3 separate regions of the Homo sapiens genome follow, and all the other regions are linked to region 1. The links come from fine-mapping of genetic effects on gene expression. A gene starts in region 1. Each other region holds a variant in brackets. All regions are shown on one strand. Distances are from middle to middle.

Region 1 (10,344 bases):
AGAGAAATTACCTGTTGGAGAGGGGAAAGAGAAAGTTACCATCAACACTCCTGATTTTATTTTATTTATTTTTTTTTTTGAGACGGAGTCTCGCTCTGTCGCCCAGGTTGGAGCACAGTCGCGCGATCTCGGCTCACTGCAAGCTCCGCCTCCCAGGTTCGCAGCATTCTCCTCCTTCAGCCTCCTGAGTAGCTGGGACTACAGGCGCCCGCCACCGCGCCCGGCTAATTTTTTTTTTTTTTTTTTGTATTCTTAGTAGAGACGGGGTTTCACCGTGTTAGCCAGGATGGTCGTGATATCCTGACCTCGTGAGCCGCCCACCTCGGCCTCCCAAAGTGCTGGGATTACACGCGTGAGCCACCACGCCGGGCCAAACACTCCTGATTTTAATACATCATGCCATAGGATGAAGTTAATTTTTAGCTCCGTTGAGAGGAAACAACTACCATCCTGCCGCATAGTAGAGAGTCTGGAGAAAAACAGTGTCAGCTGAAACCTCTACTTTCTTTAATTTCATTAAAAAATTGATCTCATTGATGCCATCAACTGTGCTTCTGGGTAAAGTCGCTGGTTCACATTTTCAGTTTCAATTTCCCTTGCTTCTCTTGCTTCAGTTTCAGTAGCAACAGGAAGTTTGGGTAATTCTATATCATTTAAATGTGAAGAGGAAGAAAGAAAACCCTTTATAAACACATCCTGATGAGTGAGTGTCAGAAAATTCTATGCAGAGACGTGGAGTAATCAAAGAGCAAATTCAGAAAATATTCTCTAAGTTTAGGATTTGTAGACTACTGAATTATAAATTTATACTGATTAATACATAGCAAAGGTTACATTAATATATTAAATCATGAATTTATATTATCTTGAGGTGATTGACCCTATGAGGTCACTTATAAATTGATTTTATGAGCACATAACACTTTATCTCTTTCCACCCTCTAAGTCTGTATATTATTAAAATACAGAAGACTAGACTTGATGTGTTTCAAAACTTCAGGCGCAGGTTAAGTTCCACCACTCAGTTCTGCTTCACTTGTTCTCACTCTGAGTCACTCAACCTCTGAACACGTTTTTCATTTGGTCAACTTATTTGAGCATTTGTCCAAGTAGCCTGAGTGGGTCTAAGTATAAGACATGAAATAAAGAGCTTGACATGGCAGAGACTGTCAGACTTTCAGAGAGAAAAAACAGTTTACTTAAGAATCTCAGAAATAGCTGGTCATGTCTAAGTTAGGGTCCCTAAGAAAATACAGGTGATTTCACTTTGTATTTCCCCCATTCCTTTCCCCCTTCCATTTCCGAAATTTGGTATTTTGAAAAGGATGAAGATCGATTTGGAAGTAGCTTACTTTAAAAAGGAACATAGTAACAGGAAATTGTAAAGTAACATTCTGTTAGGTTTCAAGGCTGATTTGTGTTAACAAGCTGACCACAGCCCTAAGACATGCTTGAAACCCTTAGTGCAGGGAGACAAAATAGGAACAGGGCTGAGCCTGATGCGGCCTCATTTGGGTTTGGTTGTTGCTGCCCCACTTGTAAAAACAATACAGACTGCGAAATAGACAGTCGTCCCTCAGTATCCTTGGGGTACTGGTTCCAGGACCCCCTCTGATACCAAAACCCATGGATGTTTAAATCTCTTATATAAAATGGTATAGTATTTGCATATAACCTATGCTTATCCTCTTGCATACTTTAAATCATCTCTATAATACCTAATACGAATGCTATGGAAATAACAGTTATACTGTATTGTTTATATTTTTGTCATATTATTTTTTATTGAATATTTTTGATCCACGATTGGCTGAATTCATGGATGTGGAACCCACAGATATGAAGGGCCTGATTGTACTAACTGATACCAGATCATTAGGCAATTCTCTTACTGGGGCTGCAGATCCAAAATCCAGACCACGTTTCTCTGAGTAAAGGTGTAATTTCCTCTGAAAAGACTAAATGTTTTCACTGCCAGTTTCCCAGGGGAGAGGTTGGTTCAGCAGGAATTTTGGGAGGAGGGTGTCCAGAGTGTTAGGTGAGTGGAAACCTTCCTCATTTCTTTTAGTGCAGATGTCAATTTGGCTCCAATTCTAAAGAAGTGCTGATAACTGAAGGTTTCTAGTGGGGTAGCTGAACTACCTTTGGTGACCTGGAAACAGGTAGCAAAGAGGGCAGAGCAGTAGCCTGGTAAGGGTGGAGAGGATTCCACTGGAGCTTGGCCGCTCTCATAAAGTACTATCTGGACCCTTTCTTTCATTATTCTGGAACGGTCAGGAAAGTCTGGTCTCTACTGTGGGCAACAAAGAGGAAAATAAGTCTTTTCCCCAGGGTCAAACAAGATGACAGAAGTCACCAGCAGAAGATGGTAGTGCCCACTGAAGCAGCAAGTTAACTGGAGTCACTGTCCCTAGGAGGCAGCCCAGGAATGGGCAAGAGGGCAACCCATTTCTGGGTACACATTACACTGTACCCTGGGAACCGCTGAGGATCACGAGGGGCATATTTTAAGGGTGGCTATTTCTGCCAGTAATGCTGGAAAGCATTCATGGCATAATGCCATGATATGTAGCAGAATCCACCACAGTGTCTGTACGAAATGTTTAAGTAGGTAATTCATTCTGTCAGTTATTAAGTGTTATGAATCTGAAATCATTAAAACAATGTACTGCACAAGAAATAGGCAGATAAGCAGACCAGAATACAGTTTATACACAAACCGATAATGAAATATCATGGGGTAATGGTGATTTAAAATAAATGTTGAAAGAAAGGATCGTCAAATAAAGTGTATTACAACAAACGGGTAGCCATTTTCCTACCTCACTCCATATAAGAAAATAAATTCTGGAGGGATCAAAAATATAAACACAAAAAATGAAACTATGAAAGTAAGAGGAAAACATAAGCATATTATAAATAAACCTTGGTGTGAGCAAGACACACAATTCAATAGCCCTAAGAAAAGATTAATTGGTTTGTGTGGGGAAAAAACAAGTACGAAATAATCATAACAGTTCTAATACATATAAATAAACCAATATTCAGAGAGTTTATAAAAATTTTTAAAAACCCTAGTAATTCAATATTAAAAACTGGCGAAGATGAAATGCAAATTACCAATGTATAAAAAAAACTCAAACCTTAAGTACAAATCAACAATTATCAGATATTAATGCAGTGATAAAACTAGTAAGTTCAATAATCAAAAACTTTGGTAAAAGGGGCAGGAAAATATACTCGCAAATGTTGAGTAGTAGTATAAGGTAGTACAGTACAGTTTAAGAAGGCAATTTGGCAGTATCTATGAATATTTAAATGCATACATTCTTTATCTCAGCAATTACTTGCTAGGAACTTATCCTATGGCTGTACCCACACAATCATTTCAAGGATGTTCAGTGCAGCAATAATTATAATAAAAGTATCCAACTCAATTATCAATAGAGGAATGGCTTAAAAATTGTGGCACATCCATACAGAGATCTAGTTAACTATTAAAAAGAATTATCTCTAAGTTATTAAACAGTAAGCAGAAAAGGCAAGGAGCAGAATGATGTGTTTAGTTTGGAAATGAGTACAGTTCTGTTATTTTCTGTTTATGGCTGGACAAAGGGACTGCTGGGTGGGGCTGTAGCAGATTATAGCTTTTCATTTTATATTCATTCTCTTTTACCAAGCACATACATTACCTTTGTATAAAAACTTAAAAATATTTTTAACAGGAAAGACATTATCCTCAAACCATGCAGTAATGCCCAACTTGAATATATTTATTCAAGATCTAAGGAAGGAAATTTCAGGGGTACTGGAGTTATTGAAAAATAAACCTAAAAACATGCCAATGAAAGAAAATGGCTGTGGGTCTCAGAAAAAAATGGTACACTGACTGCACCTGGGAAAAAACTGGAACTCTCGAAGAATTGAAGTTAACTGGGCTTTGGCAAATTTGTGAATATATCGACTCTTTCACATGAAGTTGTACCTGAGCCTTATTCTTTAAATCCAGTTCAAATGCCACAATTTCTTTGAAACTTCTCAGATCCCTAAACACTTAATATACAGTCCTCTTATAGTTCTTTGTAAATACCTCTATCATAGTCCTGAGGAGGCTATTTGTTCACTGGCATGTCAGCCCCCAACCCAAATGTGAGATCCTTCAGGCAAGCCTTAACCACAGGTTTCGCCCTCCTTTCTCTTCTATAGCTGACAAACCATGAGCCTGGTGAAAGTTTGTTGAATGGGTGATTTAATGACTGGAGGAAAAAAAAGAGCTGTTGCTTTTTTTGGATTTTAGGATAGAAAACTTGTAACTTGACATGTAAATTAATTATTAACTAACTCGACACAGTTTTCTCCTTACCAGTGTTAGGCACGACCCTACCTTTGTTTTGTCATCAGAGATCACTTGTTGCTTCAGTAACCAAGAGCACTGAGCTACACCAAGTGACAGTGCTTTGGAATGTCTAATGGTCACTGTAGAGAAAAGGAACCTGAGCTCTCCTCCCTAATAGCAAATACACACAATCTTCTGCCCACACTTGAGGTTTTGTTCTTTTTCTGGACTGTATTCTCCAACGTAAATGCGAGGTTTTTTGCCTGATGGTGTATGATACGTGGAGTTCAAATCAAGATTTTCTCAAGCAGAAAACCTGTTTAGGAGTCCCTCCATATCTATGAGAAAAGCATTTTGTTTAGAGGTCTCCATAAAAATGAAACAGAAGAAAGTAGGGGGCATATGGAGAACTTTTCTTCATAGTGAAAGGATGCTCACCATTTACTTCCTTTTAATTGATATATAATGTACATATTTATGGGGGAGAGAGTAATATTTTGATACATACAATGTATAGTAATCGTATAGTAACCTTTTTAAACTTTTTTGTTGTGGAGATGGAGTCTTGTTGCCCAGGGTGGACTTGAACTCCTGAGCTTCAGCCTTCTGGGTAGCTAGGACAACAGGCATGCAGCACTACACATGGCTTTGTTATTTAAAAAAAAAAATCCTATTATGTCCCAGGCACAATTGGAAACAAGACAGATTTGATCTCTGATAACAGTGCCTGGCAACTATTAGGATCGTTCCTAGAATCTATTTGCAAATGGTGGGAAAAGGCAGGGACCAAATATGTGAGTTCTATCTAGCAGTACAATGGGTCAAAGAAAAACAGAAAGAATGAATAAGATCTAGTATTTGATAGCACAATAGGGTGACTATAGTCAATAATTTAATTGTGTATTTAAAAATAACTAAAAGAGTATAATTGGATTGTTTGTAACACAAAGGATAAATATTTGAGGGGATGGATACTCCATTTTCTATGATGTGATTATTACTTGTTGCATGGCTGTATCAAAGTGTCTCATGAACCCTATAAATACGTACACCTACTATGTACCCACAAAAAATTTTGTTAAAGTACATAGCTCAGGTTGTTCAGGGAAGATAAGAAATTGCATTTAGTACAAAGACCACTAACCTGGGAGTCAGGAAAATTGAGTTCTGTTGCCACTTCTGGCATTATTTGTGTCATTTTTCTAAACTTTAACATCTCTAGATCTGTTTCTGAATCTTTCAAACGAGGCGTTAGAACATCTTTAAGCTCTAGAAATCAGTAGTCCTATATTTTTATGTGGGAAAGGGCTCAGTGTCTTCTATTTCCATGAATAAGAGAATAAGACTTAAGCCAGAACAGATCTAAGAAAGATATGAAAATAATCTGACACAAGGATTTGAGAATAAATAGTAACTTCCGAGTACTCTTCACCCTTGGAGTAGAAGGAGAGAAGGATGCTAAGACGGGTCCACATGAGGCTGCTGGTCCTTTGTATGGGTCAACTATTTACCACTCTTGAAGATGGATACCTCCTTCATCTACCCTCATTATGAACTAGTTCAGCAGTCTTTATACCCTTGATTGAAGAAAGTAATTTCTTATGGCAAGATAAAAGAATCCAAATCAGCTTTGAGATCTTTCCAGCTCATGTGTGTACCTGCTTACCTCTACTGCTGCTTAAGAATGTCTGTGGACATTCTTCACCACTGGTTGTAAAAACCCTAGGGAGCCAGGGCCAACAGCTTTTTTTTCCCACTTTACTTCTCTAAACTGTGACAGTATAAACATGATTTTTTAAAAGTTCAAAAAGGAAAACAGTGAATTATTGAATTTCTTTCCAATCCTAGTACCCTTCCCCAAAGGTACTGCCAACAGTTTTTGTATATTCATACATTTATAAGTTAAATCATATTTTTCCTTATTTGACATCATATCTATGTTTGGTCTTAATTCTGTCATCTATTGTAAATTCTCCCTTTAGCTCTCTTATATGGCCTGTGTTATCTTTAATTTTGTGTTTTCATTTTAATAGTTATCAGGCTTACAGTTTTGGTGATTACCTTCATAACTATTCAGAATATTACATCCCTATTTCTTGATATATTATCAATTTTACAAAATTTCTATTCTGAAAAGTAAAACCAATTAGGGCATGTATATATTACCTCGTCTTTGATATTCTATTTTCTAACTTGTTAATCATCTTTTCTATATCAAGATTTATAACATTTCAATATGCTTCCATAGCCTTATTTAAATAATTCTATAGCTACATAGTTAAATAATTAACCACCACCAGTCCTGTTCTCAATGTTTGTCCATTTATCTCTTTAGATGGGCTTCATCATCTAGATTTTTCAAGAAGTGTCCACCCTCACTCTTTCAATTTACCCTTCCATTTGAAATCACTTGGCTTCTTCCTCCCCCAAGAATCTGGTAGAGTTTGCTTCACTCTGCTTTAGCACTGAATGTTGCTACAGAGAAGCCTAAGTCCAGTCCGTTCTTCCTCTCTCCATCTCCCCCTCCCAAAGAAATCACTCAATTTTGTTGCTGCTAAGATGACATTCCCCTCTCCCTGCCCCCAGGACAATTTGCAGATTTTGGCCACATCAAGAGCAACTGTATTTTTTTGAAATTATAATGTTAAAATTAGCATTTGTTACACGATCTCACTTTAATAAAACCATTTCTATCTATTTAGCTTCCTATCCAATTTATATTTATGCATTAATTGGAATTACTTTGGGGGGTGGTGGGGTTTGGGGTCCTTTAAAAATTTTCATCTTTGAAATGGTCATCTGCAATGAATGTTTAAGTTTTTTTTAAAATAATGGAGCTTATCACTTTTTCAATGGAAAGATGACTTATCTAGTAAAAGCTGGTAGTAAATACACAAGATACAATGATGCGTACTTTTTTGTACGTTTTGAAGAAAAACTAACACAAAAGAAAAATGTTAAATGTTTAAAAAGAGGAAACAATTTCTCAAACACCTCCTCTTGATTCTGACAACTTGGGTGGGTTAATGGGCTTATGTCATAGAAATGGCATTTTCCCCCCTCCATATCAGGACACTTCATAAACTTTAACAAGAAGAATAAGCCAGAAGTTTTCTTAGCAATATGAATTAAGAGTATAAAAGCCATTGAATGATGTGGATGGAAGTTTTTACATGGTTATGGCTGCATATGGAAATGAAATGATTTAAATTGGCCCCTTTCGAGAAGAGTCTCTTGCTTCACACACTCCATTCTTTCTTCTATGTAGCATCTGGTACTTTCAGTTCCCCTTTTGTGTAAAGTGCTGGAGGTTAACAAAATACAGTAGTTCCCCCTTAACCACGGGGGGATACATACCAAGATCCCCAGTAGAAGCCTGAAACAGTGGATAGTATAATCCATCCACCAGGATTGTAGTAAGAATTACATGGGATAATGCAATGTAAAACAATTAGCACACTGCCTGAGAGTATAACTCTACTGCACACAACTACTTTTTTGGGTACTTTGCTTCTAATAGAAGGTGAGTTCCTTGACAGCAACAAATATAATTTGCCACTTTATCCCTATTATCTAGCTCAATACTTTTAGTAGGCACTCAAATGTTGGTTAAATGATTTGGAGCTAAATTGTCTGGCGTTTAGGTAAGGAATAGCAATTTTTTAAAAAGGGAATACATGCTAGGTCAGGCTGTGGAAGGTCACATAATCTGAGGTTATATTCATTTTATTCAACAGGTCATAGTGACCATTTTTAAGATGTGAGAGAGGACTGCCTTAATACTGAACACTGAAATCTTTTATCTATAAAGATTAAGTTTTTCTCCCCACTGGTTTTCAGGTATTTAAGCACCCATATTTTCACTGAGTAGGTTCTAGAAGGAAACATTTCCTTAAGAAAGAGGAAACTGCAGGATAATGTGGGCATCGATTCTTTGAGTGCTATCTCTTCTTTCTTTCAGCAACTTCTAGGCTGGTGAGAGGGAACTGAGGTTCACAAAAGATACACAATTTTTTAAAAAGTCTTAAACACATCCATTTTGATAGAAAATAGAGGCAGCCGGGCATGGTGGCTCATGCATATAATCCCAACACTCTGGGAGGCCAAACTGTTTAAAGACCAGCCTGGGCAACACAATATGACCCTGTCCCTACTTAAAAAAAAAAAAAAAGAATGGGGGCAATAAAAAGTCTTAAGAAACTAAAGACTTGCTGCTGCCAATCAGAAGAAAAAGAAAGGGTAAAAGAAAAAAACATGGAATGAGAGATGAGTAGGAGAAGGTTCCAAGAGCTATAAATTCAAAGGCCAAAAAAGAGAGAAATTCCGTCAGGCAAGTAGGTTTGTAAAAATTACTTTAAAAATCAGGAATTATATCTGTGGCCAATTATTCTAAACACATAGTTACCTTCACTTCATCAAATAAACCACTTATTATATAAACCTAATCAACATGAAAATGCAGTGGTTTTAATACTTCAATTACATTAAAAATCCAGTTATTAAAATATAATCATAACCATCCTTTTTCTTTGTCTCTGACATATACATACCCACACTCACCTACCCACACCCCACCAAAAAGTATAAAAACAAGGAAGAGAGTCATGTGTAGAACTAAAGGAAAAGTTGCATATTACTTCTCTTCCAAACCTATGTTCTGGATTTTATCACCACCTTTCCACAATCTAACAATTAGACAAGAAAATTAATAAGAATGAACTGTTAGAGGTATAGAAGGGGAGACAATGCAGTTTAGGTAGTTCTATGAAAAAAAATTGAAGCTTATGAAAGTCAAAAACTGATTAGTTGTAAAAATGAAGACACTGTACCCAAATTAGTTCTACGATAGCACATCATTCGGCAGTTCTAGAAATGAAGTACTGTTAATCTTTCACTAGGCATTCATTAGAAAAGCCAAAGAGCCTAAGTTCTAGGATTGAATCTCATTTTTTAAAATATGAGTATTTTGTTATTTCAAAGTAAGCTGTTGTATTAACCTGCACTATACAGGGGCAATATATAAGAAAGTATATAATGCCCTGGACAAATTTTCAGTCCTGGAGAAAAGCAATATTGATAATAATACAAGAAACACTAGCACATTTTGTAGAAGAAATGCAACACAGAGACAGTTTTAAGTTCTAGGCAGCAATACAAAATGCGTTAATTAGTAATAAACTCATGGCAAAACAAAGTTCACTTCTGTTTTACTAATACAGATGCATCTGGAGAATGCCAATGTTGCTGAACTCATTCAACTTTAGTAGTTAAATGTTAGTTCATTCTTAACCACTAAAAAAATTTCCCTTGAACAATCCATATTGTCAGCATTATTAGACTTTAAGACGACCACTATGTTGAGCTCTGTAGAGTACTTCCCTTTAACAAGGAGATAAATTCAGCAAGAATCTTCTTGTATGCTTTCCAGTACTATGAAGTCATACCTTTGGAAAACTTAAAATAGGTTTAATTGTATATATTTAGGTAAATATATCTACTTTCCAATGACTTAACAATTATCAGTACAGCTGGTTGGAAAATATTTAGCTGTCTGAATATGTTAAATTATACAACTCTACTACTAAAGTAGTATGAAGTGGTATTTATCTCCTCAGCTTTTCTAAAGCTGTCTAATCCAAATAACAGTGTGTATGCATGCTTGCGTGTGCACACACACATGCTAATAACATACTGGGTAGCAGATTACTGAAAAATCAAGACATATAGGCTAGACTCAAGGGCCTTATGGAATTTGTAACTGTTTGCCCAGAAAGAGATAAAATACTAGGTCTATTTTTATTCATATTCTGAAACTCCCAGACAAATCTATCAATACACCTGAGCTCTGGATGAAGTATGCCTAAAAACACAAAGTTTTTTAGCCTATAGTGTACATTTCAGTAAGCCTTCACTTACACCTACAGCATGATTAAGCAAGGGTGGAAAGTTTTTTTTTTTTTAACACATAGTTGGAGCAAATAATTTCATAGATAAAAGTAACTTCTGAA
Region 2 (10,344 bases), 24 kb before region 1:
CATGAGTCCTGCAGGGTTTGTTTACTTTTTTTCATTCTTTTATTCTTGTTCTCCTCAGAGTGAATAATTTCAAAAGCCTTGTCTTTGAGTTCACCAATTCTTTCTCCTGATTGATCTCATCTGCTGGTGAAGTTTTCTATTGTATTTTTTTTCATTTTATTAATTGTATTCTTCAGCTCCAGGATTTCTATTTGGCTTATCTATGATTTCTATCTCTTTGTTGAACTTCCTATTTTATGTCTTATTTTTCTGATTTTGCTGAGGTATCTGTGTTATCTTGTATCTCACTGAGCTACCTTAAAATAATTATTTTTAATCAATTTTCAGACAATTCTAGATCTCCATTTTGAGGTGATTAGTAACTGGACAATTATTTTGTTCCTTTGGTGGTGTCATGTTTCTTTGCTTTTTCATGTTTCTCATGGCCTTGCATAGATGTCTGCCATTGGAGGGAGCAGTAAACATTTCCAGATTTTATGGACTGGCTTCAGTGGGGAAAGCGTTTCACTTGCAGGTATGTGTTAGGGTGCTGGCTGGTGGGGTGCAGTGGCTGCAGTTATGGGGAGGGTGCAGTGGTGCAGTCTCCATGTAGCTCTGTCAACTGAGGTCACCATCTGTGGAGACTGTGGGAAACCTTGGTGGCCTAGGCTATGGGAGTCTGCAGTGGCAGCAAGGGTTATTGGGGAGCTTTGTCTGATACTCAAATTTTGGCATAATTTGGCCCAATGTTATCCTATAGAAAAATAATATGAGCAACATATGTAACTTAAAATTTTCTAGTGTGCACATTAAAAAAAGTAGGCACAGATGAAGTTAATTCTAGTAATCTGTATTATTGAAAATATCTTGTAATGCACAATCAATATAAAAACATGTGATATTTTACTTTTTAAAATTAAGTGTCCAAAATCTGGTATGTATTTTACATTTACAGAAAATTTCTCTTTAGACTAGCCATATTTCAAGTGCTGAGTAGCCACGTGTAGCTAATGGCTACTGTATTAGCATAAACTAGTCCTACTCTATTGTGATCCCTTAAATTTCTGTCAGCCACATCTCTCATTCTTCCCTGAAAACACTCTGCTATAGTCTGAATGTTTCTGTCCTCCCCAAATTTATATGGTAAAATCCTAATGTCCAAGGTGATGGTATTAGGAGGTGAGGCCTTTAGAAGGTATTAGATAATGAAGGCTCCACCCTCATGACAGGTATTAGTATGCTTATAAGAGATACACCAGAGAGCTAGCTAGCCCCTTTTACCATCTAAGGATACAGCAAGAAAGGTGTCAGTTAGGAGCGAGGAAATGGGCTCTTACCAGACACTGTATCTGCTGGTGCCTTGATCTTGGACCAGCATCTAGAACAGTGAGAAATAAATTGCTATTGTTTATAAGCCACGTGGTTTATATTTTGTTATAGAAACTTGAAAAAACTAAGACACTTCAAGATTATCTGCCTCATATTTTCATAGGCAGTGTTCCCTTTTCTTGGAAACTCCTTAGTCTCAGCCCTTTAAATCTTGCCTACCTTCTAGTATCATCACAAATGTAAGACCAAACTTTTCCACCCAGATGAAATGTTTATTCACTTACTTTTTCTGCCACAGATTATCATAATTTACACATACATTTTATTCCTTTTTGTTACCTTCTCAAGAGAAAGTATTGAGGCTTATTTTTGTTTTTCTTCTCAGGCCTAACATATTGCCTTGTATGTACTGATTACTCAATAAACATTTGTTGTTTTAAGTGGATTGTGTTGAATTCACTGCAAAGGAAGAGAAACTATCTATTGAAAAGCAATTGATAGTAAGTAAAACATCTGCCAAACCAATATGTTTTCTACATACAGGAAAACCAGAGAGCTGTCTTAGTTACTCTATAGCCTAAACAACAGTTAATTATATGGAAATTGTTCACAATATGTGGTAATTAGAGTTCTCATCTTTAAGTTGATGATTATATTTTATTTAGCTATTATTTAAGACTATGCAAAACTCTCCCTCTCCATTTTGTTTATTGTCTACTAAGCTAGAATATTGTCATTTATTAGAAAACTGTCATTTATATAAGGCACTGAGGATTGTTGAAAGGGATGGAAAGAAATGGGACCTGCTTTGAAAAAAAATTTATAAAGTGATCAAATCTCCCTGAGTCTCATTCTACATAAAAAGAGAATTTCAGCTGTTCTAGAAAAAAAAATAGTGAAGTAGCACTACAGCGCTAGCATAAGAGCCAAAGAGGAAAGAAACATGAAAAGCAGCTCAACCGTCAAAGACAGGTTTATTTTGGAGAATAAACCTGAGAGGGGCTTCTGGCTGATTTTTGGTTAGGAGCCTTCTGTCTTACAGAATAAGTATTTAAGGGTTCAGGGTGAGAGAACTTACCACAGGCTTGGAATGTTTCTGGTGGGGGAGAAATTTATTGCAGGGTTGGAATGTCTCTGGCTGGAGGGGAGGTTATCTTGGGGCTGACATCTCTCTGGCTGGAGGGGAGGTTATCTTGGGGCTGGCAAGTCTCTGGTTGGGGAGGGGTTTATCTTATGGTTGGAATGTTTCTGGTAAGAGATGTCATTTGTGGCTTATGGTCATTCTGACCTTAGTCATTAGGCTGATGCCCTTGGATTTACGAGGTTTTTGATGAAGGTGAACATTAAAATGGCAGTGCTTGTCCAAGATGGCGATGTTCCTGCTCTGTCAACTAGACTTTCTCCTTCTGAGTTCTATCTTTTGCCCTCTGCTTGTTTCTGTCTTCTGTGAGGCTGCAAAAAGCACCAATCTGCCTGCCGTGTAGGCATCCCAGAGCTGAGGATGACCTAAGTTCCTTCCCCAGTCAAATAATATGACAAATTACCTTATACCAAAGAACTATTTACTAATAGTCTCTAAATTATTACTTTTCGTAGGTATTTTCACTGTACTTATTTTGACAACAGAAATGAAACCCTTGTGGATCTCTGACCTACCCTGAGTCACATCCTTTGAACTCTCCTATTGTATTGCAGGGAAGAACACGGTTTCTTTTCTTTTACCCTTCAAGGTTCTGTTGCTGGGGCCCTGTAAACTAAATTGACAAAAGATCATGCCTCAGCCTCCTGAGTAGCTGGGATTATAGGCGTGTGCCACCATGCCTGGCAAATTTTTGTATTTTTAGTAGAGACAAGGTTTTACCATGTTGCCCAGGCTAGTCTCGAACTCCTGGACTCAAGTGTTCTGTTCCCCTTGGCCTCCCAAAGTGCTTGGATTAAAGGTGTGAGCCACTGTGGCTGGTCCAATTTGCTTGTCTTATAAGCAAAATGGTTACATCAAGCCTGCATGATATTCCCAAAGGCAAAAGTATGGACACCAAGGGTTAAAACATGAAAGAATTTTGTAAAGTCAAGGTATAACTATTGCAATAAAGATCATCATAAAATATAGAACTATAATACAATACCAGGAAAATTTTAGCTCATTTTCCTTTTAGCATTAAGCATATTTTTAACCTTTTCCAAACATATCTGTCATGTTCCTATTTTTGAAGAACTCAGAGGGGCAGATGTGTAATTACAGTGATATTCTGAGTAGTCCTTCATGCATAAATAACAGTTTCAACAACCAGAATCTTATAATCAAGGACAAGTCCTTAGCCACAACTTGTGGAAAAGTGGGATTGGGACCAAGTAAAACACCAAAGGATCAGATCTTCATTGAAAAAGTGAAAAAGCAACACCCACATGTATCTTTATTTCTATTGGTACATTCATTTATGAATTTTCCATTCACATATTGTCCTGAACACTCCCAACACAAAGTTGACATAGGTAGAGGAGAGAAAGTCACATGGGAGAGAGCCGTCTTACAAATTAAGACATATCTAGTCATTGGGAAGGAAGTCCCTCCTCCACTCCATTCCCACCACCATCCCAAGCCTCACCACGGAGTAACCTAGTATCTCTACTCTCTCTTTAAAAAACAACAACAACAGTAACAACAAAAAGGTTCTCACTATGTTGCCCAGGCTGGTCTTGAACTCCTGGCCTCAAATAATTCTGCTTCAGCCTCTCAAAGTGCTGGGATTACAGGCATGAGCTACCATGCCTGGCGTCTGCCACTTTCTTTACTGTTAATAGGATCCATGAATACTATAGTGAAAAGCACAAGAAAGACACCAAACTGGTTAAAAATAAGAGGCACAAAATTACCTAACTGAATAAAATTCAGTGCTCTATCATAATAGATTCTGTGTGTCTTAAAAATGAAATCATAGATTTCCAAATATTCAAAGGAACTT[A/T]CAAATTCTATTAAACTTACAGATATGTTTATTGGACTATTTCCCCTTGTTAGACTGAGAGAAATAGGAATCATTTATCTAAATTCTTCACATCACATTGATTAATGAATGCTTTCATTTATCTAACCAGTATCTATCCAGTGAGGCTGTGAGCAAGTCACCATGTTAGGCTCAGGATGGGGGTTGGGGAGAGAATTGCTCAGAAACTTTATAATCTGATGGATGCTAGTGATTTCTTAGGATCTTGATTATGATGTTATCAAAATCGATCTACATTTTTAAAGAATTCCATATCATCTAAGGGACCTCAGGAACCAAAGGCGTGCATACTATGGATCCTCCATATTTTCTAATTCTTTTATTCCTTTGAAAAAAGCTGTCTATAGAGAAAGATCTTATTTATTACTGGTTAATTTCAAAAAGGTTTTGAGGTAGCAGAAAACGGTCTCCAGCTATAAGTTGAAAAAAGGAGAACAGCACAAGTGCAGTAAAAAAAAAAAAAAAAAAAAAAATCCTACATAACCAGACAATGTACCAAGGCTACATCTGTCCCTGGAAAAAACTCAGTATTCCTATAGGAAATCACTCTGCCATTCAAAAGCTTTGCTAAATATAGTCAGGCAGCAGAGCCTAGGCATTAAATCAGTAGGGCTGGTTTGTTGATTATGAATGGACTAAATTCAGGAAGACATAGTGTCCTCTAGGAAGGCCCCATCTACCCCTTGCCTATGTATCACCCTACTTTTTATCTAGGCTTTATCTGTATTGGGGAAAATTGTTCCCAGTTACCACTTCCCTGGTACCTTAGTGGTGCTGAGAAAAGCTCCCTGCATGGAGGAGCAAGGCAACACCCTACCATGTGATGCAGCATCAGTGGAGTGGGGTAGGTGGGGAGAACCACTTTGAGGGCTGTTTTTGGGACTCATCATGGACAAAACAGATCCTTTGTAGGTCAAGGAAAATAAATGTGTTGGGGATGGGAAAAGATAGACACATGAAGAAATATTAGAAGGATTCTCTGCTTTTATTTGAATGCATGTTTTCTTATTGCTTCTACATCCAGAATGAGTTTTTGTAGGCTAGCTGGCTCTTCAGTTCTCCAGTAATGAAAGTGAGATGGAATACTAGCCAGTTCAATTAATCATTGATTTTAATGAATGTTCATTGTGCACCTTTTATGTGCCAGGCTCTTCCAGGAGCTGGGAAACAGCGGTGAACAAGACGAGAAGCTCCTCTTCTGGGGTAGGGTGGGAGGATAAACATTCCAATAGGCAGCATCCTGATCATCTCGATATGCCCTTGACCGATATATTCAATATTTTATTTGTTGGTGTATTCTTGGCCTCCCATCCATATACTCTACTTATATAGGACATGACAATAGGCCACTTATTCTCAACTCCCTGGACACTTAGTCTCAGCCATGTTGTACTTGCTCTTCTTAGTCATCCTCATGGTCTTGCTTTCTGTCTCATTCACTCCTATGCATTGTCTGCAACAGAAGCACAATGAGTAGTTTTTAGGATTTAACCAAGATCTGAGGCCTGAGGTTCTACCCCTGGCCTTTTCATTCTCATAGACTTTCTGGCTCAACCATACCCCTTGCTTTGCCCAAGCCTTGCTATAAGCCCTCAGCTCTTACATGTGCCTCTCCCAGTGTTGACTTGTATATACACTGTCCTGCACCTGCTCTTACAACTGACCAATAGGTGACTTGCAGCACATGTACCAGTGCTGAGAAATGTCAATATCTGTCTTCCTCTTTGCCTGCAAGCCTCAGTAGGAGTGATGCCCATCTACCATGCTCCAAAACATCTCAGCCCTATTGAAATTATTATCATGTGAACAACTACCCTCTTTAAAAACCAGAATAAGTTATTAGAGACTTGGATTTAAATACCTTAGGAATGGTGAAGGTAGAAGACAAAGCCCCTAACCCCTATACATGGGCATGTACTTGCTGGAACAAGCTTGAGATTGTACCTTGAGCTGGAACATTTGTGAAGCACTGCCCTGTCACACCTCTAATTTATTACCACCTGCAGATATTGTTTAGGCATCATATATTACTCTAAGAATCACTACTACTTGCATATAAGGTCATTTTTACCCTAACGTAAAAGTAAATAGTTGACAATGATCGATGAGCAGTCCTGGGTAGTGTTCTCTAAGAGAAAAGACCAGAGTGGCAAAGATTTCCTGCCTAGCAACCCCTCCCTTTTATGAACAGGTACTGTGACTTGTCTTGGATTTCACTTCCTACTCCATTCCTTCTATTCCCCACTCCTAAATGGTAATTTAGGACATTTACCAGTCTGCAAGAGAGTTTGAGGGGGAAACACTGTCCTAAAGGGCTATAAATGAAATCAAAGGCATGGTCTCTGGGGAGTCTCTCTATGTCAAAGAGAGTCAGATCCTCCAGGTACTTAGATCTACTGGGAAGATCGGACAGATTCATGAAGTAGACAAAAAGTCATGTAAAGCCACGTAACAAACAAATGCAAATTGAAACTAAATGCCCAGTATGACTATAAATTCTAGAGAGACTTGAAATAGAGATGTAATACATAGATGACAGTAAAAGAAGGCTTGCTGGAAACAGAATCCTCTCAAGATTGTGGGTATGGTGCCTCTTGGCAATCTGCACCAGCACAGCTGCCAGAAAACAGGAAATCTGGCCAGAGATGCTAAGAAAAAAAATCCAATGTCTGTGACAAGCTGTCAGACAGTCATTAGCATTCCCCTGACCACAGAGGAGCTCAAATTTGAAGGTCTCGCCTGATCAAACACACTTTCTGAGTAATGAAGTATTGAGCCAATCCTTGGAATAAAAAGCCTGTAAGTCTCCTTGGAAATATACTGCCATTTGGAACACGTTCATCTCCTGCTTGTGGGCATATCCCCTCTGGGTCCGTTTGCTTTCTAAATTTCAACTATTAAAATGGAAATAAATGATTTGCTATATCTAAGGTGGGACTAACATCTGATCCATGTTCGGTCTTCCAAACAGGGTACTAAAGGTGTTGGTAGTTCTGATGTAATAAATAGTACTTAAGTTGACCTAATACATTTCTGAATAAGAAACTATTGCAATTGTAAAACAGGTAGTTTAAATAGGATTGATCACTTTTTCCTTTTGATAAATTTACCTACTTGTGTATTATGCGTGTTTTAAATGCATTTGCTTTTTATTCAAAGAACAGAAATACCACTTTTTTCTACTTGTCCAAATTTTAGAAAGCTTATTCTTATTGCACATTAATGAACAAATATATACTGAGATTTCCTAAAGGAAGTCACCGGAAACGGGTCTGAGCTCTATACTTGTTGCACTATCAAAAATAAACACTAAGTTTACCTAAGGTAAGTTGCATTTATGAAACAGCATGACTCCAGGATGAGAACACCTGGGCTGCTGCCCCATTTTTAGATTCTCAGGAGTCAGTAATTAATTCTCCATAACTCATCTTGGGTGTATATCCTTAGGATTTGCTCGGATAACAAGGAGTTTTTTAAGAAACATGCTGAGTGAACAGCATTGTTGGAGGTGTTACTTCCTTATTCAGCTAATAACTTGGCTTCTAAGGGGTAATACCCAAACCCCAAAAGCTATAAGAAGAATTGAATTAGTGGCTATAAGACTATGATTGCTGGGGTGTGTATATCCTTGGACTCAAAGTCCTAGAGGATTATAACATAGCAATTCCTCCCCAAACAGATGTAGGTTCCTGAAAACACCCAGTGAAGTACTATTTGAGGCTGAAGAACTTAAAACCATACACAAAGAAATAGAAAACACTTGGCAGACTCAGGTTATAAGTAAGCTTTAAATCTCTTATATTTTAAGGTTTACTAAAATACAATAACAAAAACAGAACCCCAAATAGAAATTATGTTCGTATTATTTTACATAAATAAGTGATTTATAGTTAATTTCCATTTTTCATTCTTTTGCTGGAAATTTAACTGGAAATCTCTGCATTTCAGTAAGAGGTATCTAGTTTCATTTAAAAAATGTCATGGCTCAAGGCTTTCATCAGAAATCACGTGTCATCCCCCTTTCAGCTCCTCCTGTCCTTAGTCATGCTGTTTTCTTCCTCGTGGCTGCAAGATACCTACTGCATCTGTCAGCATCAGGACCACTCACAAGGCAGGAATTAGGAGAAAGCAGAGGGAAATAGCAACATTCTTTTCTTTCTGAGGCTTTGTCCCCTGCTGTGGAAGGAAAGCCTCTAGAACCCCATTCACCTGCATCTCACTGGTGTCACATCTGCCCCTTAGCCAAAGGGGGGTCTAGGAAGTTAAATATTCTGAACTGATGACATTTCTGCCCTAAACAAATAAGTATTTTATTACAGAAGAAGAGGAAAATTGAATCCTATAGATAACTAGCCATATTTACTGCAAATCTTTTTCTGAATTTTTTACTCTGAGGTTAACACCCATCACCTACTTCCCAGCATCCCAGCTCTTCAGTACTTCTCTTTACTCATATATCCTCGCATGCTTTGGTTCTTAGGCCTTAGGTTACTTTCCATTATCTTCTTTTATCTTTTCAGTATTCCATTACACATATCTCTATTCCTTTCCTTCCAACTTTCTCTGCCTCCTTTTGTCTATGACTAATTTGTTGTTTTTTTCTAAGTACCCCTGATAGGAGCTGCTGTTAATCCAAAATTCTTTTGTTAGCCAAAAACATACCCAGAAATAAATTCATGTATATCCATTAGTCAGATATTTTTATATCTATTAAGTTTTATATCCATAAAATTTGTGTGAGTTTGCTAGGAGTTCCTCCCAAGGGGGTGGCACTCAGATAGGTCTTTGGTTATAGATGGAGGGCCATGAGCTCAGGTGACCCAGGTGACTGGGCCGAAGAGGCAGAGTCCTTGTGGAAAACACAAAGGTCTAAGAGTAGGGTATCTGAGACTGGCAGGAGCCAGGGCAGTATGGAGATTGGAAAAGGGTTGTATGAGGAACTTGTCTTTACAGTATTAGTAAACATGCTGCAGTACTTTGTTGATTTCTTGGTAAAATTGTGAAAAAAATTATATGCATCCAATACTGTTGGATGCACTTGTTGGAAGTAAGAAGGGGTGGGTGGCTGAGATACCAAAGTGAACAGCCAGACTGACCTAGACACAATGAGAAATGGAAGCATCAAGTCAGCAGAGGAGAGCCTCCCAGACATCCTGCACAGCATGGGCAGTGTGGGAGAACTCCAGATGTCTTTTTTCCCAAGAAGCAAGCTCACACACCCCCGTGGACCCCTTGGGACCTGGGGATGAAACTGTGAGACAGACTTTCTTCTTGGGAGAAGCAGACATCTGGTAGTAAAAACTACCTTTGAATCTAGACAATCTAATTGCTCAACTCTAACCAATGCACAGTTTAACAAAATGCTATACATGTAAGGATTTTCCACACTACCTACTTCCTTTAATGAAAATGAATCTGGTGCCCATTGGAATGTGAGAAGGTGTAATAACTGGACAAAAACAAGGACAGTAAGGAGGGAGGAAGGCTGAGATGTCGGGTGCAGGCCCCAACATTTTCGAGCAAGACTGACTGCCAATGAGGAAGGAAAAGGAGCTGCCATTGACAAATGGACGTACAGGACTGCCAGCTGGAAGAACACTGGAGGGAAGGAATGACACTGAGCTCATGTATTGAATGTTGACATGCTGAGCCTTCAAGATCAAATAGCTCATGAGAAAATGCCTGCTTGAAATGATTCTATGTTCAAAATGTGCTCTTACAATTTAGACATAGTTACTACATTTGTTTTATATCAACAGCAGTGATTATACAGTGCCCTAGCTTTTCCAGTTGCTTCTTAACACACATAGTCTATCAAAATCTACAAGACATGGTTTAAAATGAGAGGTAAATGAATGCTTGCATTAGGTTTTGGTTACATTTAGATCAGGGCAGTGGGCTTTGTGTGTTGAGTTGCTGCTATAGGAACGGAAGTTAAGTACCAGATCTTTGGAAAGTTGTGCTGAGTTTGAATTTTGAACTGTGGTCCTAATTGTATGGCAAATTGCATCATTTTTTTCTCAAACTATGTCCA
Region 3 (10,344 bases), 36 kb before region 1:
AATAAAATGACTGCCCACTAATATGTGATATAGTTCATTAAAAAGTACTTGCTTTGGCCGGGCACGGTGGCTCACGCCTGTAATCCCAGCACTTTGGAAGGCCGAGGTGGGCAGATCACGAGGTCAGGAGATCGAAACCATCCTGGCTAACATGGTGAAGCCCCATCTCTACTAAAAAAAAAAAATACAAAAAATTAGCCAGGCGTGGTGGCGGGCGCCTGTAGTCCCAGCTACTCGGGAGGCTGAAGCAGGAGAATGGCTCGAACCCAGGAGGCGGAGCTTGCAGTGAGCCGAGATCGCGCCACTGCACTCCAGCCTGGGTGACAGAGCGAGACTCCGTCTCAAAAAAAAAGAAAGGAAAAAAGTACTTGCTTTAATAATTCTATAAATAAAGTGACCACCCACTAATGTGTGATTTTTGTAAAGCATGGCATTTTTTGTAAAGCATGGTGTTTTTTGTAAAGCAGTATTTCTTATAGGAATCTTATGGCTCACACAGGAGTGGTAAGAATGCCAAATATGATGATGTATACAATCTAAACTAGACAGGCTGAAAGAATTTACACAATATAAAAACATACACTTTAAAAATTAGCCCTGTGGACAGATGCATGCAGTGGGAAGAGTAGGTGACAGAGGCTAGAGATCCTTTTATAATCAGTTGAGGGTCCATATGCAGTGAAATTGACTTTTTCTCTCCATTAAATAACTTTTACTAACAGATACAGGTATTTCACACACATTCAAACACAGAAGGATGAACTTTGACCTGCTACCTCTACAGTCTACAATGACACAACTGTGGTCTATCTGATACTCCCAGGAAATCATAAAGAGTAAATCCCATGCAACTTCCATGTAAGTAGCGAGAAGCATCGTCATTTATTCTAGATTGAACTTTGAAGATGTTTAACTTCCAACCTCGTATTTGTAAAGAACATATGTCTCCTTAGGCTACATTTTCTTCACAATTGACGTGCACTTAGAGTGGGGAAATTGTGATGACTTGTTTCACCTAACAGTGATAACTGAAGTACTCTTAAAAATGTGAGAAATTTTTAATAACATCTTTTATTAAACTTAACACATAACATGAATCATGTATAGCTTTAAGCCAAAAGGTAGAAGGGAATACATTTGAATTGTCATGCTTTTAGTTTTTATATTCTGTAGTTTCTACCACTGTCCCAAAGAATGTAGCTGATCACAACTGCTTCTTTACTTACCAAATCAAGAACTAGTTTGAATTCCTAGATTGGAGGAAATCCAAAATAAAAGAAATGCCACTTTTTTTAAATCCCTCTGGGACCGTTTTAGAAGCCAGACCAAAACTATCAATTATTCAAGGTTCCTATTAAGCAGTGGTTTGATTTTGTTATTTCCCTGTGTGTAATGGTCTAGAAGCAAACCAGGTAAAAACTTGTTAACACTGCAAGAAAGTTGACCTTTGGTATACTTCCCATAAAAAATCAGAAATCTTGAACAGCAATTCAGAGTCAGGTTTTTTTTTGTTTTTGTTTTGTTTTTTATTAAATATACCCCCAAGTATCCTGCTTTGCAGTAACTGTTATGGCAATGAGTTTTGGGGGGGCTATTCTTGAAAACTTATACCTAAAGATCCTCTTATGGAGATTTCTCTGGTTTTAAAACAAGTTGGCAGATTCTGTGAAACTAAAGAGAAAAAGTCTCTCTGAATGATTTTAAGCTACTGCTTGAATTGCAAATTCATATTGGGGAAAAAAACATTAAAGTAACTTGAAAGTCTCTTTTATTGGCAACTTCAAATGCAAAGTATTTTGTTTTTAAATTTCTAAAGCGTAGGTTAAGTAATATAGCTTTCCAAAGCTGAATGTACTCATCTGGAGCTAAGTGTTTCTGCTTTTCTACAACTCCTAGGTGGAAACGCTACTGTTTTGATGACCTGTGATTGAATGAATGGATCCATCTCAGCTGGTAGCATCCCTTTGCTTCCATGTTAAGTATTTTAAAAATTCTAGAATAGATGTGTCTCGCCAGTCTTAAATAGAAATTTCATTCCAAATGTCTCCGGAGAGTCATATACCATTTACAGGAATCCATCTTCATTCTTGTCATTTTTATACACCTTGGAAACCAGTGTGGAAATGCTCACCATACTATTTCTGCTCACCAACAGGAAGAAGGCTTGATCAGTATTCAGCTGTAAGCACCTTCTAATTATTTTGATTAGTTACTCATGTTGACATGGTCGGGTATGAAAGGCTTGGTTTTATCCAATAAAGGAGGCTGCTTCTCACCCCTTGTATCTTTCTGTTCGCCTTGGGATTTTGGTAGGATGTTGCCCTCTGGTAAGTTGGACATCTACTCTTTGTTCCAAGATGTGGTGCTGCTGGAAGTTCCCCTATGCATGCCGCAGGAGGGTGGTTGGCAGAGGTGGCTCTGACTCTGGTGACATTGACTGCTCTTGTAATTCCTCATCCCCTCAGCCAGGTCAGCTAGAATGGACTGTTTATTATGTGACAGTGACCAGAAAGGTTATATTCCTTGCCTGAGAGTTCTTCCAGGGCTGGCTTAGAATGGATCTGCAGGGCAGGTTTAAGGGGGAGAGGTGAGAAACAAAAAATGCTGTACTTTGCCTTACCTACAAAGTCCATCATTGAGTAAACCAGCCGCTCCAGGATTAGGAGTATTTGGAGACTGACCGGTCATATGCTAGGCAAGATGGGTCTCTTTTTATCTCATTTATCTCATTTCAGGGGCAGGACAAGTTCCACAATGCCACACAGCATGTGTTTAGGAAGAGGCTTTATTGGAAAAAGGGACAAATTATTGGGAAACTGGAAGAATTATCGAGGGAAGAGACCGCAGGTCTTCTCCATTCTCCCATCATCCCACAGAGAAGTATGCTGGGGCAGGGTGCCCTGCTGGATGTGCAGTGTGGGTCTATATTCCAACAGTGGAAACTAACCCCTTGATATCTGTTGCAGGGAGAGACACGCTGCTGGAGGCTGCAGTTTACAGACTTTGTCTAGGAATGCTAGTCTGCTAGTCATGCAGCATGTGGCAACCTTGAGATTATGGGAGATTGTGTCGGGTAGGAGGGACGGGTTGGGAAGGGGGCTGGTCACTTGAGCAGCTGGTGTGAGTGCAGCCTCTCATACTGTGAGAAGGAGCCTCCCATCCCAGCTGGCCCATTGTCCTGGCAACCAAGAATGAGAATTTCGAGGTCACTTCTGGCTCTTCTGATGATTGCCCCTACAATCCGGGGGAGAGCAAAAAAGAGGAAACAGGTGAATTCCAGCTTTCAGGCCTAAATAATTGCATATTTACAGGAGGAGCAGGACGGAAGCAGGTAGGAATTCCAAGAAGAGAACATGGGGGAAGTTTGAGGAAAATACAAAGGTATTTATATTAAAAAGCAGCCACCATTTCCTTGGTTGCACAGACAAATGAGAATGTATTGAAAACTGAACTGATAAGCCTGCCAAATTCAAATCATTTCATCAGCTATTTTCTGATAAAGTGGGTTAGAAGATAAATGCCTATTCACTTGTTTAAGATAAGAAATACGAAAATGTGCTCTTTTGCCCTCACCCCATTCTCAGAATAGTAGAAAAGGAAACCAGTAGTTTCAGTACTGTCATAAATGTATTTAATGGAGTTGCTGCCTGGGCATCCATTTTAGACCTAACACAAGTTACTGGAACTCAGTAGTACCCCGTCGCATTCGACCAGGTGAAAACTTCCTCTCCCTGTGTGGTTGTTTACAATATAGCCCACTTGTTCCTCATCCCACAGCTGCTGGCCATGATAAAACCTAATGGCCCACACCAGAGTTAATAAGTTCCCCCTTCATCTGTGTTTTCTTTAAACCAGACAATTCACAACCCCCTCAGGAAGGCTAATGGGCCTTAATGAAAGCCTCGTGACCACATGTGCTCTCTCCTCTCTCGCTCCCCGCTTGGTGGTTGAGCTCCCTGTTGCCTCCAGACTTCTGTGGCCTGCCATCGGGACCCCTAACCTCTCTGGGATATGTAAGTCATACATTTCTTCTGTTTCATGCAATTTGGTTTCACCTTCTCATTTTGTCTCATGACCAACACACTTGAACCAGGGCTCTCCTAGCAAGCGGCTATCTTGGCTTATGGCCATTCTCCACAGAGATCTCAAGTCCAAATTAGAAACTATAACAATAAAAATCACAACACAGTACCTATAGTTTTAATGTTCAGCTAGTAAATAATTTAGTCCACAATGCCTTAGGACTGAACCTTCAGCAAGTCAGTGTAGGCTATGAGGCTGAGAACTTGCATTTAGAGATGATATATGGGCAAAGTTAGTCGTCACAGCATTTTGTTTTGAAATAACAGGATTGCAAATAACTAAAATCATTATTAAAAGGGTAGTCATTACATAAATTATGTTATACAATTCAATAGAATATAATGCAGCTGTAAAAAAAAAAAAAAAAAACAAAGTGAGGGCTGGGCGTGGTGGCTCACACCTGTAATCCCAGCACTTTGGGAGGTCGAGGCAGGCGGATCATGAGGTCAGGAGATCGAGACCACCCTGGCTAACACGGTGAAACCCTGTGTCTACTAAAAATACAAAAAATTACCCGGGCATGGTGGCGGGCGCCTGTAGTCCCAGCTACTCAGGAGGCTGAGGCAGGAGAATGGTGTGAACCCAGGAGGCTGAGCTTGCAGTGAGCTGATACTGCACCACTGCACTCCAGCCTGGGTGACAGAGCAAGACTCCATCTCAAAGAGGAAAAAAAAAAAAAAGTGAGGATACTTTGTTATTCACTGATTCTTAATGACATCCAAAATTCATTCTTAGGTTAAAAACAGGTGCCAAACAATGTACAGTCTATGCTATCACTGGCGTAAGAAACAATGGTAGTGGTGGGGAGTATATGTAGGCATGGTCTTCGATAACACATAGAATATATTTGGAAAGATATGCAAGAAACAGTATTCATTGCCTCCGGAAGGGGTCACCAGGTGGCTGGGGGCAAAGGTGAGTGCTATCTTGTCAAAATATCTTTTGTGTCTTTTGAACGATATGAATGTATTATTTGCTTTGAAAAAAATATGGTTTAACAACAGCATATAAAACGTTACATATTTTCTTTTTCAGACAAAGTTTCTCTGCATTTGTTCATTGTCTTTCACTAAAATTTCTGTTCTTTTTTTTTTTTTTTTTTTTGGATTCTTTGTTGAAAGACAGTAGTGTGTAGTTTTAAGTTTGGTGAAGAGTGTGAACTTTGGAGTCAGATAGACCTGGGTGGAGAGCTGGTTCCACCAATGAATGGCTGTGGGAACTTTTGGAGCCTGCCTTACCTGAATCTCAGATTTCTTGCTTACAAAATGAAGTTGGGAATACCTTTCATAGGGCTTATTGTGAGAAGTATATCAGGTAAATCTATACAAAATCCTAGCAAAGTTTCTAAGAAACTCTAAATGCCCAAAAAGTGATAGCTATTACTACTATTGGGTATAATTTAATGGTTAATTTTTGCTTTGCCATGCTGAAATATGAACATACTGAGAGGGTTTGGGGCTCAGCCAGACCTAGGGCAATTTGGTCATTTTCATTTGTCATAGTAAATGTCAATAAAGTCTAAAGATGAGAACTGTGTGAAAGCTATAGGTAGTTGTATTCTATTTTGCTGCATAATACTTCAGAACTTAGCAGTGCTGAGCAAATATTTACATTCTTTCAGTTTCTGAAAATTAGGAATCTGAGAATGGCTTAGTTAGGTGGTTCTAGCTCAGGGTCTCTCATGAAGCTGTAGTTAAGCTGTCATTTGGGGCTGTGGTCTCTGAAGGTTTGACTGGGGCGGGAGGATCCACATCCAAAATGGCCTGCTTGACTTGGCTGTTGGCAGGAGACCTCAGGTCCTTGCCATGTGGGCCTATCTTAGGCCTACTTGGGTGTTCTCACAACATGGCAGCTGGTCTCCCCCCAGTGAGTGGTCCCCCCTAAAAAAAGCAAGGGGATCTTAGGCCGGGC[G/A]TGGTGGCTCACGCCTGTAATCCCAGTGCTTTGGGAGGCTGAGGTGGGTGGATCACGAGGTCAGGAGATCGAGACCATCCTGGCTGACACGGTGAAACCCCATCTGTACTAAAAATACTAAAAAAGCAAGGGGATCTTTTAGGACAAGGGCCAAAGTCATACAGCATCACTTCTGCCTTATTTGATTCCTTAGAAGTCGGTCACTAAGTCCAGCCTATACTCAAGAGGTGAGGAATTAGGCTCCTTCTCTTGAGGGAGAAATAGCAAATAATTTGTGGACATATGTTTTAAAATACCACAAAAGAGTATCCTTATAATTTAACATTCAAACTTGGAAACTTTTAGAAGTGAAAAGTGGTGTTATTAAAAACCAAGACTGGACAGTAAGTGCAAACTGGGACCCTCCTGGGCAAAACAGGGTATATAGTTACTGAGGTGTACATCTTTCTACAACCTCTCATGAAAGTCTCAGATCAAGAGGTGTACAAATACCCATTACAAGCAGACTCCCAAACAGTCATACTTCTTGCTCTGTAAGCTCAGTGTAGTCCTGATACTCTGATCATCTAGGAACTCTAGTAGCCACTTTGCCTGGAAGGCTAATTCCCAGGAAAAATGAGAAAGTGTTCTGACTGAAAGATCAGCTAACTTTCTAATGGTGTCAGACAAGAAAACCCTTCATTAAGGGGAGGAATGCAAGATAGGGTTCTAAATTTTAGGAGTCTTTTCCCAAGGTGTTAAGCTCCCAGGCTCTTCATTTCTCACACTTCTGTTCATCCAAGAGTGGAGGCATATCATTCATTTCACTATTGAAAATGGTCTTATATTATCTCTTCTGAAACTCTTTAAGTGCAGATTCAGATAGCAAGTTTTGAAGCTCTGGCAGAATTATCCAGAGTACAGCATCTTTCATATGCAACCCACCTTTCAAGTGTGAGTTTAGAGTGTACTGAATGTTAAGCATCTTCTTGGATATAGATTAACACTAATTTAAACAGACACCTACATACCACATTATCTATGCTGAAGTACCTTAAATTTCAGGCAGCATAAAAAAACTCAGTAACTGGGTTTCCAAGTAACCAACCTTCAGTTTTTAACAATTCCATTATAAAGAACTATCATTTCAAAAGGAAAATGAAAGTTACAGGCTAGAGAAATTCAGATTCATAATAACAAATTTTTTTTCCTACAGAAATTTCTATGTAAAGTATTTTCTTTAATAGTGGATAGCTACAAAATTCTCTCCCCCGTCCTTATTGAGGTATAACTGACAAAAATTGTATATATTTAAGATATACAATGTGATGTTTTAATAAACATATACTTTATGAAATAATTCCCCCATCTAATTAACAACCTATTCCTTACTTCACATAGTTACCTTGTTTTTTGGTGGGGGAATGGGGGTGTGTGCAAGATCTACTTAAGATCTACTCTCTTAGCAAATTTCAAGTACGCGGTACGTTATTATTAACTGTAGCCACCATGTTGGACATTAGATCTCTAGAGCTTTTTGAGAGCTTGTACCCTTTGACCAACGTTTTGCCGTTGCTCACCTGCCTCCCTGGCGGCAACCACTATTCTACTCTGTCTCTGCAAGTTCAACATTTTTAGATTCCACATTCTATGAGTTTGACTTTTTCAGATTTTAGAATTTTAGATTCCCAGACCCTGACAACCTCAATTCTACTGTTTGTATGGATTCAACTTTTTTAGATTCCATCTTAGATTTTTTATTTAAGTGACATCATGCAGCATTTGGCTTTCTGTGTCTGGCTTATTTCACTTAGCTTAATGTCCTCTAGGTTTATCAGTGTGCTTACAAATGACAGGATTTCCTTCTTTTTAAAGGCAGAATAATAATTTATTGTATATATACCACATTTTCCTTACCCATTTATCCATTGACAAATACTTAGGTTATTTCCATATCCTATTCCATTGGCTATTGTGAATAACGGTGCAATGAACATGGGAGTGTAGGTATCTCTTTGAGATGCTGATTTTATTTCCTTTGGATATATCCTCAGAAGTGAAATTGTTGGATTATACAATTTTTATTTTAGGTTTTATTTTTAGGTTTCTTGAGGAACCGCATACTGTTTTCCATAATGGCTGTAATAATTTACACTCCCACCAATAGTGTACAGAATTCCCTTTTCTCTGCATCCTTGCCAATATTTGAGATTTTTTGACTTTTTGATAATGGCCACCCTAACGTGTGTGAGGTGATGTCTCCTTGTGGCTGTGACGATTAGTGGATGCTGACCAGTTTTTCATATAGCTGTTGACCATTTGCATGTTTTATTTGAAAAAATGTCTATTCAGATCCTCTGCCCGTTTTCAATTTTTTTTTTTTTTTTTTTTTGCTCTTGAGTTGTATGAGTTCCTTTTATATTTTGGATATTAGCCCCTTACCAGATATATAGTTTGCAAATATTTTCTCCCATTCCGTGTGTTGCCTTTGCATTTTGTTGATTGATTCTTTCACTGTGCAGAAACTTTTTACTTTGATGTAGGCCCACTTCTTTATTTTTGCTTTCATTGTCTGTGTCTTTGGTGTGATATTCAAAAAATCACTGCCAAGTCCAACATTAAGGAGGATTTCTCCTAGGTTTTCTTCTAGTAGCTTTACAGTTGAGGTCTTATGTTTGAGACTTTAATGCATTTTGAATTTATTTTTCACATATGTAAGATAAGGGAACAATTTCATTCTTTTGCATGTAGATATCCAGTTTTCTTGGCACCAAATTTTCTGAAGAGATTATTCTTACCCCATTGTGTATTGTTGATGCTTTTGTCAAAGATTAGTGACTATATATATGAGATTATTTCTGGGCTCCGTGTTCTATTTTTCTATGTGTCTGGTTTTATGCCAGTACCATGTTGTTTTGATTGCTATAGTTTTGTGATATAATTTGAAATTAGGTAATGTGATGCCTCTAGCTTATTTTCCCCCCCTTTGGTGTCTTTTGTAGCTACATACACATTTTAGGATTTTTTTGTTTCTATGGAAACATGTGATTGGAATTCTTTTATGGATTGCATTGATCACTTTGGGTAATATGGACATTTTAACATTAATTCTTCCAATCCATGAACATAGGATATCTTTCTACTTATTTGTGTCATCTTCAATTTCTTTTGTCAATGTTGTGTAGTGGTCAGTGTTCAAATCTTTCATCTCCTTGGTTAAATGTATTCCTAAGTGTTTAATGCTTTTTGATACTACTCTAAATGGGATTATTTTCTTGACTTTTTCCCCCTAGATCATTCATTGTTAGTGTATAGAAACCACTTACAAGGTGCAGTGGCTCACAGCTATAGTCCCAGTGCTTTGGGAGGCCAAGATGGGAGGATCACTTGAGGCCAAGGGTTCAAGACTAGCTTGGGCAATAAAGTGAGAGAGAATGAGAATGTTACCTAATTTCGTATGTTGATTTTGTATCCTGCTACTTTACTGAACTTGTTTATTAGTTCAAACAGTTTTTTTGGTTGAGCCTTTAGGACTTCTACATACAGGATTATATTATCTGCAAACATACAGTTTTACTTCTTCCTTTCTGATGTGGATGCCTTTATTTCTTTTCCTTGCCGAATTACTCTGGATAGGACTTTCATTACTATATTAAATAGAAATTCGGGAGAATTGGGTATTGTTGTCTTATTCCTGATCTTAGAGGAAAAGCTTTAATCATTTTGCCATTGAATACGATGTTCGCTGTAAGCTTGTGATATATAGCATTTATTATTTTGAGGTATATTTCTTCTATACCTAATTCATTGAGAGTTTTAATCATAAAATAATAATAAATTTTTTTAAATGTCTTTCCTGCATTTCTTGAGATGATCATTTGGTTTTCTTCATTCTGTTAATGTGATGTATCACATTTATAGATTTGCATGTATTACAACATCTTTGTATCCTCAGGATAAATCCATCTTGAACATGCTGTATGATTCTTTTAATGTTCTGTTGAATTTGGCTTGCTAATATTTCATTGAGGATTTTTGCATCTATATTCATTAGGGTTATTAGCCTGTAGTTTTCTTTTCTTGTAGTGTCATTGTCTGTCTTTGATATAAAGGTAATGCTGGCCTCATAAAATAAGTTTGAAAGTGTTCCCTCATCTTTAATATTTTTGAAGAGTTTAAGGCGGATTGGTTTTTTTGTTTTTTTTTTTTTTAATGTTTAGTAGAATTGACCAGTTGAAGCCATCCTGTCCTGAGCTTTTTTATTGGGAGATTTTTGATTGCTGATACAATCTCCTTACTCATTATTAGTCTGTTCAGATTTTCTATTTCTTCATGATTCAGGTAGGTTGTATGTTTCTAGGAACTTGTTCA

Evidence for each region. PIP is the estimated chance that this variant, and not a neighbour inherited with it, causes the effect.
Region 2: its variant is the best candidate, but not a certain one, in a credible set for the expression of LINC03016 in whole blood (INTERVAL, PIP 0.88).
Region 3: its variant is the best candidate, but not a certain one, in a credible set for the expression of LINC03016 in whole blood (INTERVAL, PIP 0.70).

What each region holds. Positions count from the first base shown.
Region 1 is chr7:7,249,219-7,259,562 of GRCh38, reverse strand. It overlaps LINC03016 (long intergenic non-protein coding RNA 3016), which reads right to left and starts at 4,409. Exons shown (of 4, transcript NR_108073.1): 1 at 4,385-4,409; 2 at 1-11.
Region 2 is chr7:7,273,004-7,283,347 of GRCh38, reverse strand. It overlaps LINC03016 (long intergenic non-protein coding RNA 3016), which reads right to left. Exons shown (of 4, transcript NR_108073.1): 4 at 5,279-5,763. The region is part of intron 1 of LOC107986764 (a long non-coding RNA gene); the gene reads right to left. Among named protein-coding and RNA genes, the nearest start is that of LINC03016, 23 kb to the right of the region's middle. The variant A/T (reference allele first, on the strand shown) is at 4,272.
Region 3 is chr7:7,285,559-7,295,902 of GRCh38, reverse strand. All of the region lies in intron 1 of LOC107986764 (a long non-coding RNA gene), which reads right to left. Among named protein-coding and RNA genes, the nearest start is that of LINC03016, 36 kb to the right of the region's middle. The variant G/A (reference allele first, on the strand shown) is at 5,995.